Linked DNA regions of Homo sapiens: all the other regions are reported to be linked to region 1. The links are microRNA targets in miRTarBase. Many come from high-throughput screens and were not tested one by one. Region 1 holds a microRNA gene; each other region holds the end of a gene's coding sequence.

Region 1 (4,000 bases):
CACAATCCGGGTGGGGAGACACTGTGGCAAAGGCCTCAGAAGGACTGGGGTCAAGCAGGGCATGTGAGGAACAGCAAACAGGCTGGGAAGGAGGGAGAGGGAGATGGTCGAGAGTCCCTTGCACGAAAAGCTTGAGGTGGTGAGCTCTGCACCCTGACAAGACTGAGCGAGGAGAAATTCAAGTCCCTGTAGTCATATCTCCCTCCCACCTTTACTGACAGATGCCTGATATCCCCACCCCCTTATCACTATGGGAGATTCCTTGATGCTGTCATTTACAAAGCCCATCCTCTGTAGAGCTCTCATTGACTGCCACTAAACCCTGGCCAGGTAGGCAGAGCACCGGCCCTTGTTCCTTTGCCGGTGAGCGCACTGAAGCTCACCCCCTGGGGTCGACAGCAGGACAGTCCCTGTCATTGATGGATTGTGTATCTGCCCTGTGCCAGGTACTCGTCTAGGTACTCAAGGTACAGCAGCAAACTTAAGTGTTGTTCTCTGCGTACAAAATGACATCAACCACATGCCCATGGGCTCTTGGAGGTGGGAAGTGAGGTGATCATCCCAAAATGATCACCATAATGATACATAGTAAATCATGAAATGTAAATGTACGATATCTCCCATGCTGAAAAGAGGAGGAGGGCGTGCTCCGTAATGTAGGATGGACAGGATCAAGTTTAATAACCTTCATTCGAGCAGAGGCAAGACAAAAGTGAGCTGTCACACAGTTGGGGAAGCACAATTAGGGCAAGGGGACACTGTGGCAAAGGCCTCAGAAGGACTGGGGCCAAGCTGGGCATGTGAGGAACAGCAAACAGGCTGGGATGGAGAGAGAGGGAGTGTGGCCCAAGAGATGGTCGAGAGTCCCTGGGGGTCACCCTGCAGCCGTGACCAAGCCCTAGGCCTCCACCTGGATGAGCTGCATCACCACTGCAGGTTTGGGGCAGACGAACCTGGGCAAAACCTGGGCCCTTTGATACCAAGATCCATGCTTGTTCCACTGGACCGCCCCTTGTCCCACAGATGGGAGAGCTTGTTTTTCTTCTTACTATTATTTCCACAGTTGTAATTCTTTCCATAGCTATTCTGCTAAAACAGTGAAATTGGAGATGAGGAGTCTGGCTTGCGCTGGGTGAGAATGGGTAGAGGAAGCTGTGGAGAGAACTCACGGTGCCTGTGGTTCGAGATCCCCGCCTTCCTCCTCCTTTCCTCTGCCCCTTGGGTTTCACCTTTTCACCTCCGTCACATCTCGACAGCTAGTAAGTCTCGTGGGCCAGCTCCACCTGCCACCTTAGATTAGGAAACGCAAAAGGACAAAAGAGATTTGTTTTTAATCAGCTCCATTCCAGATTAGCACATGTAGATCCTTCCTGTTTTTGTAGAACATTAGCTATAGGCGCAGAAGACTATGTATTCTATAGATTATAATAGAATGTGAGTGAGCACACAAAAAAGGGAGAGATGGGTATTACAGAATCCCAGAATGATAAAACTGGCAGAGACTTTAAGACTGCCTTGTCCAGATGTTTGCATGACAGTGTAAATGTACTTAATGCCAATGAAGTACACTTAAAAATGGTTTAAGATGGTACATGTTATGTTGTGTCTATTTTACTACATAATTTTTTTTTTAAAGACTTCCTTGTCTAGTGCTCCTCTTTAGGTCTGAAAAACAGAGAAGTTGAGTGACTCAGCCATAGCCACACAGCAGGTGAGAGACAGAGCCTAGCCTGGAAACTGCCTTCCTAGCTCTTAGCCCAGTGCCTTTTCCCACGACCACAACTATTGTTTGTTCGTTGGTGGAAATTAATACGGAAAGTAGTCACTCCTTGAGCTTTGAACTCCTGTAATCCAAATATGAGGCATTAGAGTCAACCCAGGATTTCACTAAACCTTTTGCTGTAGAGAACTCCCAGCAGCAATCTTTTGGTTAATTTGAACCTTGCCCCGCTTCTATGGCTCTTAGTGGCGGTGGTGATCACGCTGAAAGGCTAAGACCTTCAGGCAGACGGAGGAAGAGAAACAGCAGGAGATGGACTTGAGTCACAAGCTCTGACTTATGACCCAATGTGGTTTTTCCAAGCTCTTTCTTATTCAATGCTTACTTGAGCTTTTTTTGCACTTCGGGGCAAACAGGGCAGATGCTTGCACGTGCGCTTGCATGTGTGCTTTTGAGATGAAGGAAATACGTGATGTGAGTGAGACAGCCCTTGTGGATGCTGTCTTAATCCTAACTCCAACTCCTCCCCATCCCTCCTCACCTTCTCTGCAAGCCTCCAGGGGTGTGATGATGGGATAGATTAACTGAGCTTTTGAGACCCAAGGACTACCTACAACTCTCTGAGGCAGTGCCCTAGCCAGGAGAGTCAGAGGAAGATTTCAATTTTGAGCACGGGAAGGTAGCAATTCCTAACTTTCCACTCAAAGAACAGTAGGGCAGGAAAACAGGAATTCTTAGGAGGCCCCTGAGCTAAGGAGAGGAGGCTGGTCTAGGAGCTTGGGGCGCTGGGTGGAGGAAGCTCTCAGTGACTTTCACCATAGCCTTGAACAAGTCACCGCGCATCCTGGCCCTCACAGTAGATTAGGTATAGTTAATGATAAGAATTCAACTCACTTCCAAAAGTATTTCCTGAGCACTTAATTTATGTCATACACAATGATGACATCAGATCTTACTGTGTAAGGATGCATGCTGGGTTCCAGGCAGTTTAATGCAGGATTTCTTACCTCTTTTCTTGAGCATACCCTGGAGAGTCCTACTTTCCTGTCAGCAACCATGATGGACCTTAAATGGGAGGGAAAGACTGGGGGTAGGATGCCTAGTTTGAAAAGGATCTTGGGCTCATGGTTCTGTTCACACACACCCTATGCACGCAGACACGTGGGAAATTGGAATCACAGATGTGCACAGACAGAAGATGTGGGTGACCTTCATCAGATGTTAGAACCTGGTCAAGGACAAGGCCTTGGGAGTATGAGGGGCAGGACAGAAGACAAAGGCGGCAGGAAATCTGGGGAAAGAAGATGGTTTTGTTTTTCTTTTTTGAGACAGAGTCTCACTCTGTCACCCAGGCTGGAATGCAGTAGTGCGATCTCAGCTCACTGTAACCTCCGCCTCCCGGGTTCAAACGATTCTCCTGCCTCGGCCTCCTGAGCATCTGGGATTACAGGTGTGCACCACCACGCTCTGCTAATTATCGTATTTTTAGTAGAGATGAGGTTTCACCATGTTGGCCAGGCTGGTCTTGAACTCACCCGCCTTGGCCTCCCAAAGTGTTGGGATTACAGGTTTGAGACACTGGGCCTGACCAGGGAAAGAAGATGGTCTTGATACGAGGGTGTCAGCCTCAGAAGGACCAGGTGATAGGAGTCCACTCCTGCTTGAACATTCCCTGCTTCCTGCCTGGTCCTAAAGAGAGGCACCTGGTATAGCAGAAAGAGCAGCAGCATCAACTTAGGAAGATGTGGGATCAAGTCTTCTCCATTTCCCAGCTAACAGGTTTGGGGAAGTTACCCGAACTCTCTGAGTCTCGATATTCTCATCTGTAAAATGGGATGTTAATATCCTACGTGTCTAATACAAAGGGCTGTAGTGAGGCCAAAATGCAAGTAAGGTGAAAGGTCTTTGTGGACTGTGGTCTGTCATGTTAGTTACACGTCTGCCAAAAGTTGTAGACAAAGCTGTGGGCTTCCTGGTTGGTTAGGTCTCGGTTTGAATTCTGTGGTGCCCTATCATTATGCAAATGTGACTTTGAGAAAGCTAGTTAATCTCTTGTTCCCTCATCGCAGGGGTGATGATGATGTGATTCATGGTTCGCTAAGGTGCTCAAGGTTTGAGCTCCCCAGTGGATTATCAGCTGCATGAAAAGACCTTGTCAGTCTTGTTCACCCATGTGGGTGTCCTCAGCCCTGGAATAGTAGCTGGCAGCTAGAAGGTGCTCAGTGAGTAATGTTTGGCTGGTCAGATGAATGCGTGAATGAATGAATGTGAATGAGGAGT
Region 2 (4,000 bases), not on the chromosome of region 1:
GCAAGGAGTAGATGAAAGACTGATAAATGAAGCTGAGGTCCCCCCAGTGCTTCCCTTTCAATAGTTTATGCTAAAAATATTTGTTTTTTAAAACTCTGCGCTTTCTTCATTTTTATTGGAACGCAATTTGTGAACCACAACTGAGTCTGTATGCAGGATCTCCAGAACGCAAATCAGAAAAAAATTTGAGATTTTATTCAGATTTTTCTATTAGATTGAGCCACTAATGTTCGGTAAGGGGCACTTGATGGTTAAAAAACACAACTGGCATGATAAAACTACACTAAATAATATCTACTTTATTTGAACAGTCATATCAAGAATGGCCCTAAATTTAATCAAGGACTAAATTTAATGAAAGACTCTGACATTAAAGACTCTGGATTGTTTGAAGGTATTTTGCCTGCAGGTGAGACTGGTTTTGAGGGCACAGAAACGTAGCCTGAATGAACCATTCAGAACTCATCATGCATCCAACTGAACACGTTTCATGCTTACTCAATTTTTTTTTTTTAAATGCAACAGGCTCAGTTTTCTCACATTGGTGCATCTCTTCATGCTAGAACTGCTTATGTCTACAGAGTCCCTGAAGAAGCAAAAATCCTTTTTTTAGCATTAAACATAGCATATGGAGTTCTTCCTCAGCTCTTGGCCTATCGTTGTATCTACAAACCAGAGTTCTTCATAAAAACAAAGGCAGAAGAAAAAGTGGAATAAAAATATTACTTCATGTTCCTCCTTTCTAAATTACTAACTTTTGTTATACTGGTACTGATATTTTGTCCCATTTCACTCTCTTCTCATACGTGAGTACTTAAGAATATGTACATTCTTGCTCTGCACTGTATGTGTGAGCTATATGGTATTGTGTAAATTTTTTTTGAAGGAAAATGGAAATTCTTGAGAAACAGTTTGTTTAAAGAAATATATTCAAAATCATTTGTGAATAAACTTGATCATCCATCTCAATATTGTTTGACATATAAAATAATTATAAGTGTAAAAAATTACAATTTAGTGCCAACAGTAGTGAGCATGAAATGAAACTATTCAAAAGAGAATATGGCCTGTGCATATTAAAAAATTCAAAACAGTGAATGCAGACTGGAGGAGTAACTTTTGCAAATAAGATGAATATGCTTCATTATTAAACTCAATATAAAAGGCAAATCATCAGAATATTTTTAAATGTTGTTTGAAAAATGTTTTCCCAAGGAAAGTTTATTATTTGCTGCTGTTTCAAGAAAATTACTTTTACTAAATTTTTTTGTGTGAATTTAAACAGCTAAATAGGGATCAGTAACTTTATCTCTATCCTTAATGAACATTTGTTTTATTGGTGGCTGGAAATATTTCTATTGTATTTCTGTGTATATTTTTAATAAAATTATTTTTGGCCTCTTATAAAGACAAATCTTATTAAATTTGAAACATTTCATATATACACATAAAACGCTTTTAAAGAAAATTTGTGAGTTGTATATTCCAATTCAAAATGCCATCTACATTCCCCTTATGTTTCAGTGTGAGCAATGAAGAGGTCTTTTGATGAATTAAATTTCATTAATTAAAAAATACATTCAAATATTCAAAATTAAAAAGGACCTTTTAAGGAAGAAGTATTAGATCGACATCCCTACTATCTTTTTATGAACTTTTCATGTTTGGGATTGTATGTTGAGTATACTAGAGAAAATCAGTATTCACTAAATGAAAGAAACACACCAAAAATACAAACAGCCACCTCCTCACTGTGCCCTGGAATGATAAATGGACTGGTGCTTTCATACCCTTAGCTGCCATCATCACCATCATCATTATTAACGGCCCTAGGCTTTTAGGTCTGCTCACATTTTCTCATGTTTTTATTAGCTCTCATCAAGAAAACCAAAAGAAAATGGGATACAAATCAATGCATGGATAATATCAAATTACAAAATCTAGGGTCCACTGGGCTGGTAAATATGTAAGTGTAAGCAAATCATGTAGTCATCTCCCCATCATCCCCTACAGTGTTTTCAAATAATCTAAAACCCAGAGAGTGTTTAAAAAAAAAAAAAGAAAGAAAAAGAAAAACCCTCACCTGCACTTGATTCTATTGTCAGCTTGCTGTGAACAATTTTTGCTTTAATATATGAATTACATTAATACCTCACGTTACATATATGAAGCCAAATTACACTAACTTAGTTTGCTTACAACCTCAAATCTTACTCCCAGTACACATTCCAATAAATTTATTCTGTAAAAACAATACATTTTTTTGTTTTTGATTTTTTTACAGTAAACTTTTCAACTACAAACCGTGAATACGCGAAAGATGTTCCAAGGACAAGCATTAACAGGATTGATAAAACCCAAACTGACTAAATGTGTTCTCACAATATAAGCTGGCATAAAAATAAATAAAATTCTCTATTATCACAATAGCAACAATAATGTACACATAATAATGGTTTAAGGATGAATATTAACTATTCTAATTGTAGTTCCAAAAGAAAACAGTTTATTTTAAAAGTCTACATTTAAAAGTCAATGCTTTGTCTGGTTTCCCATAGGGCTGTTGCTGATTCCAGCTTTAAAATGTAAAGTATCCACCTTGAGTGCTTAGCTCAAAATTGTATTGGCACTGGGAAAAAAATAAATCATTGCCTTTATTTTGGAGTAACACAAAAAGACTCACTAACTTCACATATAGAAACTTAGTTTGTGTACATAACAATATGAATTTTGAGAAGTATAAGCTGTCAACTAGCTATTTCTAATACGGAATAGATATTTTACAATATGGTTAAACTTTACACATGGCCTCAAAACTGAAGGACAATTTTAATTTCGTCTTCAATATACCAACGTTATGTATTTAGGAATTAATTCCTGGGTTCTGTCACAGAGAGGAAATTCCATTCTTAAGCATTATGTTGAGTGGTCATCTAAAAAATGTTAATTTATATTTAACTGAGTGTTTGATGATGGTGGGGTCAAGGCAGGAAAACGATGATCATAACTGCCTTGATAAAAGGATCCTAGACATGTATAAGTCTGCGCAAAAATCTTGATAATCCTTAGTGGTTAAGGGCAACTTCATGCAACCAAATAACATGAAATTAAATCAGTAACTTTTAAAAAAGGCTAAAATGTCTTTTCCCCCCGAAACACAACAGAGAGGAATATGAATAATGTACATACAAACTGGGGTTCTGTCAATGACAACAAGGACTATGTGTTGGTTCATATCAAATCCAAGAATATTAGACAACCAAACATATAACCTTCTTGTGGTTTCTCTTAATATGCAGCATTCATTATGGTAGTTAGGTCTGTAAAAAAAAAAAAAAGAAAGAAAACAAGCCTTTAGATGATTTAGGATACTAACAATGAGAGCTATCCACACCTAGATAGTACATAATTGGGTTTTCTGAAATTTTAATATGCACTGCAGCATTAACAATACTTACTGAGCAAGAGCAGCTTCTGTGGCTTTGCTTTAGACCTGTCAGTGCAAAAAGTTAAAGGAAATCCTAGGGTATTTTTAGTGTCCCATAGAAAAAAATTATAAACCTTGTCTACTGTCTGTTAGGACAGAGTGCAGCAGTGCACATTCTACAATTCTAGGACTATGTTTATTGCTGGAATACATCATCAGTGGAGAAATTGATATAATCTATCTTTGTGAGGACATTCTTCAGAAAGAAAGGTAAGCTGTGTAAAATTTAAAAAGCACTTAGAGTGTGCACCAATTAATCTTCAGAATATTTATAACTTAATTACTTGTGACACATAGCTCAAACAAATGTAGAAGTTAATCATGATGTACAAAGTCTCTGACTTCTTGCTTTTAAAAAAAACATAAAGAATAAGAGGAAGCCTAGATTTCTTTTAAAATTTAGATGGCATCCGTGTGACAAACAGAAAATAAAACATTTGTTTCATAAAAGAATTATGTTTCTATTTGGGTCCCACTTTAAATTGTGTCTGGTTCTATTTCCCCAAAAGGATG
Region 3 (4,000 bases), not on the chromosome of region 1:
GAAGAACTCTGCTTCCTGGGCGCTCTGCCGCTGCAACAATAACTGGGTGGTGAGACACAATAGCAAGGAAATCCCCATTGAGCCTGCCCCCCACCTCCGGCGCGTGGGCATCCTGCTGGACTATGATAACGGCTCTATCGCCTTTTATGATGCTTTGAACTCCATCCACCTCTACACCTTCGACGTCGCATTTGCGCAGCCTGTTTGCCCCACCTTCACCGTGTGGAACAAGTGTCTGACGATTATCACTGGGCTCCCTATCCCAGACCATTTGGACTGCACAGAGCAGCTGCCGTGAGCGTCTGGCCACATGGAGCTGCTTTCTGGGGAACAGTAAGGTTCAGGCCACTATTTAGGGGACTGAGAAAGCACAGGCTTCATGAGTGTAATGAAATCTCACCAGAAGTGTCCCGAAATCGGCTCAGATAGGGCTCAAAACAAGAGATTCCTCTCCTTTTACTGTGTCTTGTATTAAGTACGGGCTTTAATAATTTCTTTAATTTTTTTGTATTTAGAGGAAAATCTATAGATTATTTATAAGAGAAACATAATCAGGATTACAACTTTTAGGAATTACTTGGTTTTGCACATTAAGAGGCCCATAAGTTTATCAGCTATTTACAACCTTCATTTCATCACAATCTGTGGGCTTACAAAAAAACAAAAACTTTTGTAGTTTTGTATGTTACTCATCTTCTTACCTGATATCCCATGATGATCCCATGGTAGGTCTTCTCACCTCGATGGTGCATAACAGGATGTGTTTGAACCTAGTAGGGGAGGAAACAGGCTTTCTTACTCTGGTTTAATTTGAAGTGTTTTAATTGTGATGTCAAAAAGTTGTATCAGATCAACTAAAATGGAGAGCAAGACAGAGAATGAAAAGAGTTGATTTTGGACCTCGGACCTTGCCGTGGCTAAATCTTTACCTTCTCATAGCTGATGGGATAATGTTGGAAAGAAAGGTTCTGAATCCTTTGGCCACATTTTGCCCTGCTTCTCTCAGGGTTAAGGGTTCTGGAAGAACATTAAGAATGAGATTGCAATTGAAAATAGTCATTTTGAATCCTATTGATTATTCAAAAATTCAGGCTGATTTGTCTTTTATCAGAGGTAGGATTCTGTTTTATAGTATAGAATCTACTTTATCCTTCCTTTTAATAGTTCCTTTAGACCTGTGAAATTTCTTCACTACATTTAATAGTTCTCCTATTTCCCGCTCCCCCATATCAATTTTCCTTTTGTCTCCGGGGCTGAGTAAATAAACATGTTCTGTCACAAATAGCAGCACCACTTTGGATTGATTTTGCTCTCCAGGACATCAGCACATGGCCCTGATCAGCACTACCACATCCAAACATAAGTCACTGAAAAACACTTAATATTTATGAGTTGGTAATGACAAGGGACATTGTATAAAGTACTATTTGCTAGATTCATGCCTCAAAAGTTATTATAAACAGACCTTTATTAAACACATCTTGAAAGATGTAGAAGTCCCTCTATAGTCTAGTATAGTTTACAATAGAGTTGTAAGACCAAAAAAAAAAAAAAAAAATTCAAACTCGTTATTCAGGAACCTGCTTATAAAATGTCAGCTGGGATTCTTTGCATGCCAATCTGATGCGTTGGAATGGTCCATGAATTAAGGCTTTCTTGAGCAGTTCTTGGCCCAGAACTCTGGCATTGGTTCTAGTTTGATGAAGGGCATGACCTCTATAAATGGTTTCAATTGCTAAAATATTTACCTGGGATACTGGGTCAGCCATTTTGACTGAGCAGACTAGTGGATTTAGACATTGTTTTTAGTTATTTTGTTTTTAACCAAATCAACCAACTGCCTCCCTGAAATAAGTCAATGAACTCATTGTTTCAGCATCACGTGGCCAAAGGTCATGTGATTGCAAATCTGGATTTCAAGGGAGGCCAAGCCAGCTTCCTGGGTCCTTCCATCCTCTTCCCTAGCAGACACTCTCCTTTTTCTTAACAGATAGATTCTATATATTTACTATATTATTTATACCCAGATGAATATTTTGATAGATACCTAAGACAATTTCACATCTAAAAGATGGACGCCTCAATGGAAAAAAAACAATCTTTCTCTGGAAACCTTATAGGTTTTTCTTTTTATTACAATATAAAAGCAATGTGTGTTTGCCTTCTCTGAGTAAACTGAAAGGGTTGTCTCAGTAATTTTTACATACATTTTGGGTAACTGGATAATGGATATTTTAATGCACTTTGTACACTAACAGGTTCTAAATAAAAGGGTCTAAAACTCAGCTTCTGAGTTTTTAAAATCACGGTCTCCAGGTACCAATAAATGCTACAGTTTGCCTTATGATGTTAACATAAAACACTTAGTAGAAGGACAATATTTCCATGAAAATAATGTTTTTCAATATTAAGAAGTTACTACTCAAATTTTCACAGTAAGCCATTTAGGGTATGTTTGGCTATTTTTATAAGGACATGAGAGATTATGTCATAATTTTGTTGTGGAAGTCTCACTCTTGGCTAACTTAAAAGCATTGTGGATAGTAGCAGTTACTAGTTCCAGGTTGTCATATTTACAGGAAAATATGTATATGGTGAAAGGCCACCGTGTTTAATTACTATAATGATGTAGAAAAGATTCCCGTGTGAATTTTTTTTTTGAAAGTCTAAAAAATGTATGCTGTAAAAATTTGCTGCAGTGTAATTTTGCATTCTCTTTAAACTGATTGAGGTCACAGTATTTTATTATTTGGGGTCCTCACCACAGGAAACACTGCGATACAGGGGCAAAAGAGATGGCAGTGCCAATTAAATTAATACAACAAAATCAATGCAGCACCAACCAAGACTGCCAGGTCTGGTGTCATGGGTATGCCCAGAGCCCAGGAGTTCAGAAGGGCCCTAAGCCTGATTTAATGCTCTGCTGTTGATGTCTTGAAATTCTTAACAATTTTTGAACAAGGGGCCTGCGTTTTCACTTCGCACTGGGCCTTGCAAATTACATAGCGAGTGCTCATAAAAGAACTCAGAAACGTGGTACCTCTCTTCCTGGTGGATACAAATAAAGAAATCTGGATCCAAAGTTGAAAGTTGCTGGCGATATCATTCAAGTAGGACTCTAAATAGTGGATTAAGATGAGGGTGGGCCTGGGTGAAGATTCTTTCCAGCTTTAAAAGAAAGTGACTTCAAAAACTGACTGCAAATATTGACGATGGTTTCTGCTGGAGGAAAAGAAACAGCTTGAATACAGACAGGCTTTTTTATTACGGTACTGATATATTGACCTTAAACTTGCTGAGGAACTGAACTAACGTCCTCCAGTGACCGTGGAATTCCATCTCAGCTCCAGGAACATGCAGATACCTGCAAAGAGACACGCATATATGCTGGCATACATGTGCATTTGGTGTTGGGAAGTTGACCATCTGGTCTATCTTAATAAAATGGTAAAAAGCACACCAAGACAATGATGGGGGCAGGAGGATGTTTTTGAAAACAGCGCTTCTCAACCAGTGCTCGATTTTGCCCCCCAGGAGACATTTGGCAATGCAATGGCAACTTTTGGTTGTCGCAGCCGGGGAAGGGAAGCTACCAGCATCTAGTGCGTAGAGGTCATGGACGCCGTTAAACATCCTACAGTGCAAGCGCAGCCCCCGACCACGAAGAGTTGTCTTGCTCAAATATCAACAGTGCTGCAGTGTAGAAACTTGATCGTTGGTTTTCTTTTAATGCAAAACTCTCATAAAAACCTTTCACTTTTCCTGTCATTGATTATATGCTTGATACACCCAAAAAGAAAAGGGGAGGGGCACCAATTCACCTACACTCCAGTGGCTCCATCACCTTTAAAAATATTTATAAAATAGTTCCAAAAATCTGATATCTGAAAAGCAATCCAAGCCTGTGTAAATGGGAATCACTGATAAGTATCATCATCTGTATCAGCTTGGCTTGGACATGAAAAATTGATTCTCTTTATGTCACTCCTTGCACCTGGAC
Region 4 (4,000 bases), not on the chromosome of region 1:
TGGCTTCCCAAAGTGCTGAGATTACAGGCATGAGCCACTATGCCCAACCTGAGCAGGATGACTTAAACCTGATCAATTCTACTCCAAAACAGCAACTATCATTAAGTCAGGGGTGTCAAGGAGGACTCTGTGAAGGCAAAGACTAGACTGGGATGTGTGCGAGAGTGGGATAAGAAGGCCCATCCCTAGCAGACTGCAGGAGTGACTCTGGCATAGAATTCATGGCCAGCCCTAACTAGTGTGATGGGTGGCAGGGAGGAGGCATCTGCTCAGTGTTCAAACAAAATCCTTACAAGTTCTGGGGCTGGACCTCTGTGTCACTCCTGAATCCCAATGTATCCGTTACCTTTACAAGAAACTGGTGTGGTTCTTGTCTGCTAAGGGCAAGACCTGTTTTCTGAATTTACTTTCTGATAATAAAGTAACACCATGGAAAAGAAGAACCTCAGAAAAATATGGGGTCACCACATGGGCTTTCCCAGTGCTAGCTGCCTGTTTTGGAAAGCTGCAATGTAGGCTACAGAGGGCAGTCTGAAAAGAGTCCTTCTGCTTTCGCTTCCTGGAGCTTAAGAAGAAAAGAGGAATTACCAAGGTTGTGGTGGGTTATTTACTCTGGAAATATCTTGGTCACACTGTCCGTGGCAAAAGCGGAAAGCCTAGCTTATGTGGATAGTTGAAGGTGACTGTGTGGGCCATCATTATCTACAATAGAAATGACTCAAGCCCTAGCATGTAATCTCTTAGGGACTTAACAAGTTAAAAAGAAACAAAAAATCATATTGGAAATGGCCTCTTGGTTTAATATAAACTTGGTTACAACATTCAAATTTATCTTTACGGAAATTTCACACTGCTCCTAGGAGCCCTTATAGCATCTGATTCTAAGTTATTCTGAAGGAAAAAAAAATTATTCTGAAATATACCTTATTAGGATGATCACTGGAATTCTACCAGATATAAGTAAAAGGCTAAATGGGTTTTAAATAAATACAAGCTAAATTACCTTCTTCTGGGGTTAACAATTAGAATCCCAAATACCCCAACATCTCAACTAGAAAGGCCTTCACAGTAATTCTATGAAATTGTAAATGATGCCAAATTTTTTTTTTTTTTTTGAGATGGAGTCTTGCACTGTCACCCGGGGTGGAATACAATGGTGCAATCTCGGCTCACTGCAACCTCCACTCCCAGGTTCAAGCGATTCTCCTGCCTGAGCCTCTCAAGTAGCTGGGATTACAGGCGCCCACCACCATGCCCAGCTAATTTTTTGTATTTTTAGTAGAGACGGGGTTTCACTATGTTGGCCAGGCTGGTCTTGAACCCCTGACCTCGTGATCCGCCCGCCTCGGCCTCCCAAAGTGCTGGGATTACAGGTGTGGGTCACCGTGCCTGGCCAATGCCAATTTTTGAAAACAGATTTGATCTTTAGGGTAAATGCCTGAGTCAGCTGACAAACTCCATATACATGAATATGTCCAAGTGAAATTACCTAAAGAATAATTTTTTTTCTTTCTTTTTTTTTTTTTAAGAGACAGGGTCTCACTGTGTCACCCAGACTGGAGTGCAGTGGCATGATCACAGCTCACTGTTGCCTTGACCTCCTGGGCTCAAGTGATCCTTCCACCTCAGCCTCCTAAGTATTTGGGACTACATGCATGCATCACCACACCTGACAAATTAAAAAAAAATTTTTTTTTTGCCAGGTGCAGTGGCTCACATCTGTAATCCCAGCACTCTGAGAGGCTGAGGTGGGCGGATCACCTGAGGTTGGGAGTTTGAGACCAGCCTGACCAACACAGAGAAACCCTGTCTCTATTAAAAATACAAAATTCGCCCGGCATGGTGGCGCATGCCTGTAATCCCAGCTACTCAGGAGGTTGAGGCAGGAGAATCACTTTAATCTGGGAGGCGGAGGTTGCGGTGAGCCAAGACCGCACCATTGCACTCCAGCCTGGGCAACAAGAGCGAAACTCCGTCTCAAAAAGAAAACAAAAAAAAAATTTTTGTTTTTGTAGAGACAGGATCTCACTCTGTTGCCTAGGCTGGTCTTAAGCGATCCTCCCAGCTCAGCCTCCCAAAGCACTACAATTATAGGCATGAGCCATTGAGCCTGGCCTGAGAATTTTCTTTAATTTCAAAAAAATAGCTGCTGCTTCTTTAAAGAGTTTAAAAATTGATCGGTTCAATGGCAAAGCTACACAACAACTCTGGAGTAGAAGGAAAGAACTCTCTTTATAGTACAACCTCTTTCCAGCATACTGCCATCAGCTAGTAGAGGCAACTGCAAACAAATGGTAGGAGTTGCCCAGGAAGGTATTTGGGCTGGACAAAGTGATAGCAACCCTCCAGACCCTGGCTCCTTATAAATGTATAGCAATTCATTCATACAAACTGCACAGAGGTTAAACAAAACCTACTAAAAAAATTAAAAAATCCCACAAAATCCCCAACCCAGAAAACGTTTCCTGGCTCTCTACTAACAGTAAAATGTGCTGAGCCCAAATTTTCTGCTCTAACATGGGTCCCACGGACCTATCAGTCTGCTCTGGGGTGCTGACCTGCTGGGTCCTGAGCAGGGTCTTTCCCTAAGCATCACTGTGGGTTTGGAGACAGCTGTAATGTGTGCAGCTGTCAGCAGAAAGTACAATGCCACTGGGCTACATATGTCCATATCATCCACCACCATTTCCCACTGTAAAACCAAAGGCTGCAACTGTGAACAAATGTGGACTTCCTCAAAGGACAAATGAGGAGACTGAAGGCTACATTTCCTCCTTTGAGAACCATTAGAGAGTGTCTACAGTTATACAACAGGTTTCTGCAGACCCTGTGGTAACTTCCAAAAGCAAGAGTAGCAGCAAGAGAGGAAAGGAGCATGTTTATACTTTGGACTTTGTATCAGGCACTTAAATTGTTGGAGAGACATGCCGTTTTGAACCAAAGATATAAAAACTGGGTTGGAGTAATCTTTACAAGTGGTCTAATGAATGGGCCTTCAGAAGCAAAGTGGAGGTGTGGGTTGAACCTCTGCCCATCCTTTAGTGCTGACTTTCAAGTTTTCTAAATGCCCATAACCACAGCAATGGCAGCAGTGGCGGCAACGGCAGGAACAGTTCTGTCATGTCTGTTTTCTGTATGTGTTCTGTGGCTGACCAGAAGGTTTTGGTGTCACACTAAGAAGGCTCTGGGGTGTGGCACACCTACTGCCCGAGGTTGCCCAGATCCACGCTGGAGCCAAACATCTTCACCAGCTGTTCCTCATAGTGTGAGATGTTCCTCTTCATGATGTCCATGCAGGGCCCCAGAAGCCTCTCGAATGCTTGTACATCCATAACTGCATTGTTAAAAAGAGGTGAGGGAGAGAATGAATTCAAGCCATTTCCCTCATGCAAACCTTTTCCTAAACATACCCATTCATGTTGTATGAGATTACGCCTTGGGACACCAGCCACTTGCAAAAAGGGATGTTTCTATATGAATTCAGAAGACTGTCATCCAGGTTAGAGACTTTACAGAGTCCAGCAGCTCCTGTTCTCCCCATTCTCCCACAGCCCTGGACATCAGTTCTTTTCATACGGCTAAAGAACCTGCATGCCTGTCTTGCTCACAGGCTGTCATCAGTACTCAGAAATGTTTGCTGAAAGCATCCATTCATCCATCTCTGGTTGGTCACATAAACTGCCTAGGCCTAGACAGCAGTAAAAGATGGCAGAATATGTCAAGGCTTGCTGATGGGAAAAAAATATTACATGTTAGAAAAAGAATATTAATGCATAAAGAACTTTTCTTACCTAAGCATTTGACATCTCCAACTGCATAAGCTGAGGCAGCTCTGGGTTTGTTGGTGACCAGGGCAAGCTCTCCAAAGTACTGCCCCTTATGGCAGCGGGCAATCTCGACCTCCTGGTTCCCACCATCCTTGTTTGATTTAGTCTACAGCAGGCAAAGAACATGACCTAGGCTGACTCCAGGATCACAGCTGGGCATGTCCAGTTGCACA

Evidence for each region. Region 1 holds the annotated microRNA hsa-miR-3125 (UAGAGGAAGCUGUGGAGAGA, at 1,144-1,163, shown strand). A microRNA usually pairs through its seed, bases 2 to 8, with sites in the 3' UTR of a target mRNA and lowers its output. Matches are read on the target gene's strand: a 7mer-m8 pairs with bases 2 to 8, a 7mer-A1 pairs with bases 2 to 7 and ends in A, and an 8mer does both.
Region 2: miRTarBase lists HDGFL3 as a target of hsa-miR-3125. Seed matches in the 3' UTR shown: 7mer-m8 at 3,165-3,171 and 7mer-m8 at 2,894-2,900.
Region 3: miRTarBase lists MID1 as a target of hsa-miR-3125. Seed matches in the 3' UTR shown: 7mer-m8 at 446-452.
Region 4: miRTarBase lists PRKAR2A as a target of hsa-miR-3125. Seed matches in the 3' UTR shown: 7mer-m8 at 2,863-2,869 and 7mer-m8 at 578-584.

What each region holds. Positions count from the first base shown.
Region 1 is chr2:12,736,233-12,740,232 of GRCh38, forward strand. It overlaps MIR3125 (microRNA 3125), which reads left to right and starts at 1,135; the gene lies at 1,135-1,212. All of the region lies in intron 2 of TRIB2 (tribbles pseudokinase 2), which reads left to right.
Region 2 is chr15:83,135,956-83,139,955 of GRCh38, forward strand. It overlaps HDGFL3 (HDGF like 3), which reads right to left. Exons shown (of 6, transcript NM_016073.4): 6 at 1-3,320. The coding sequence ends at 3,315. It overlaps TM6SF1 (transmembrane 6 superfamily member 1), which reads left to right. Exons shown (of 10, transcript NM_023003.5): 10 at 526-1,453. The coding sequence ends at 717. Among named protein-coding and RNA genes, the nearest start is that of TM6SF1, 30 kb to the left of the region's middle.
Region 3 is chrX:10,445,666-10,449,665 of GRCh38, reverse strand. MID1 (midline 1) reads left to right here. Exons shown (of 10, transcript NM_000381.4): 10 at 1-4,000. The coding sequence ends at 298. Among named protein-coding and RNA genes, the nearest start is that of MID1, 170 kb to the left of the region's middle. RefSeq lists an enhancer at 1-727.
Region 4 is chr3:48,748,385-48,752,384 of GRCh38, forward strand. PRKAR2A (protein kinase cAMP-dependent type II regulatory subunit alpha) reads right to left here. Exons shown (of 11, transcript NM_004157.4): 10 at 3,792-3,933; 11 at 1-3,334. The coding sequence ends at 3,201. Among named protein-coding and RNA genes, the nearest start is that of IP6K2, 33 kb to the left of the region's middle.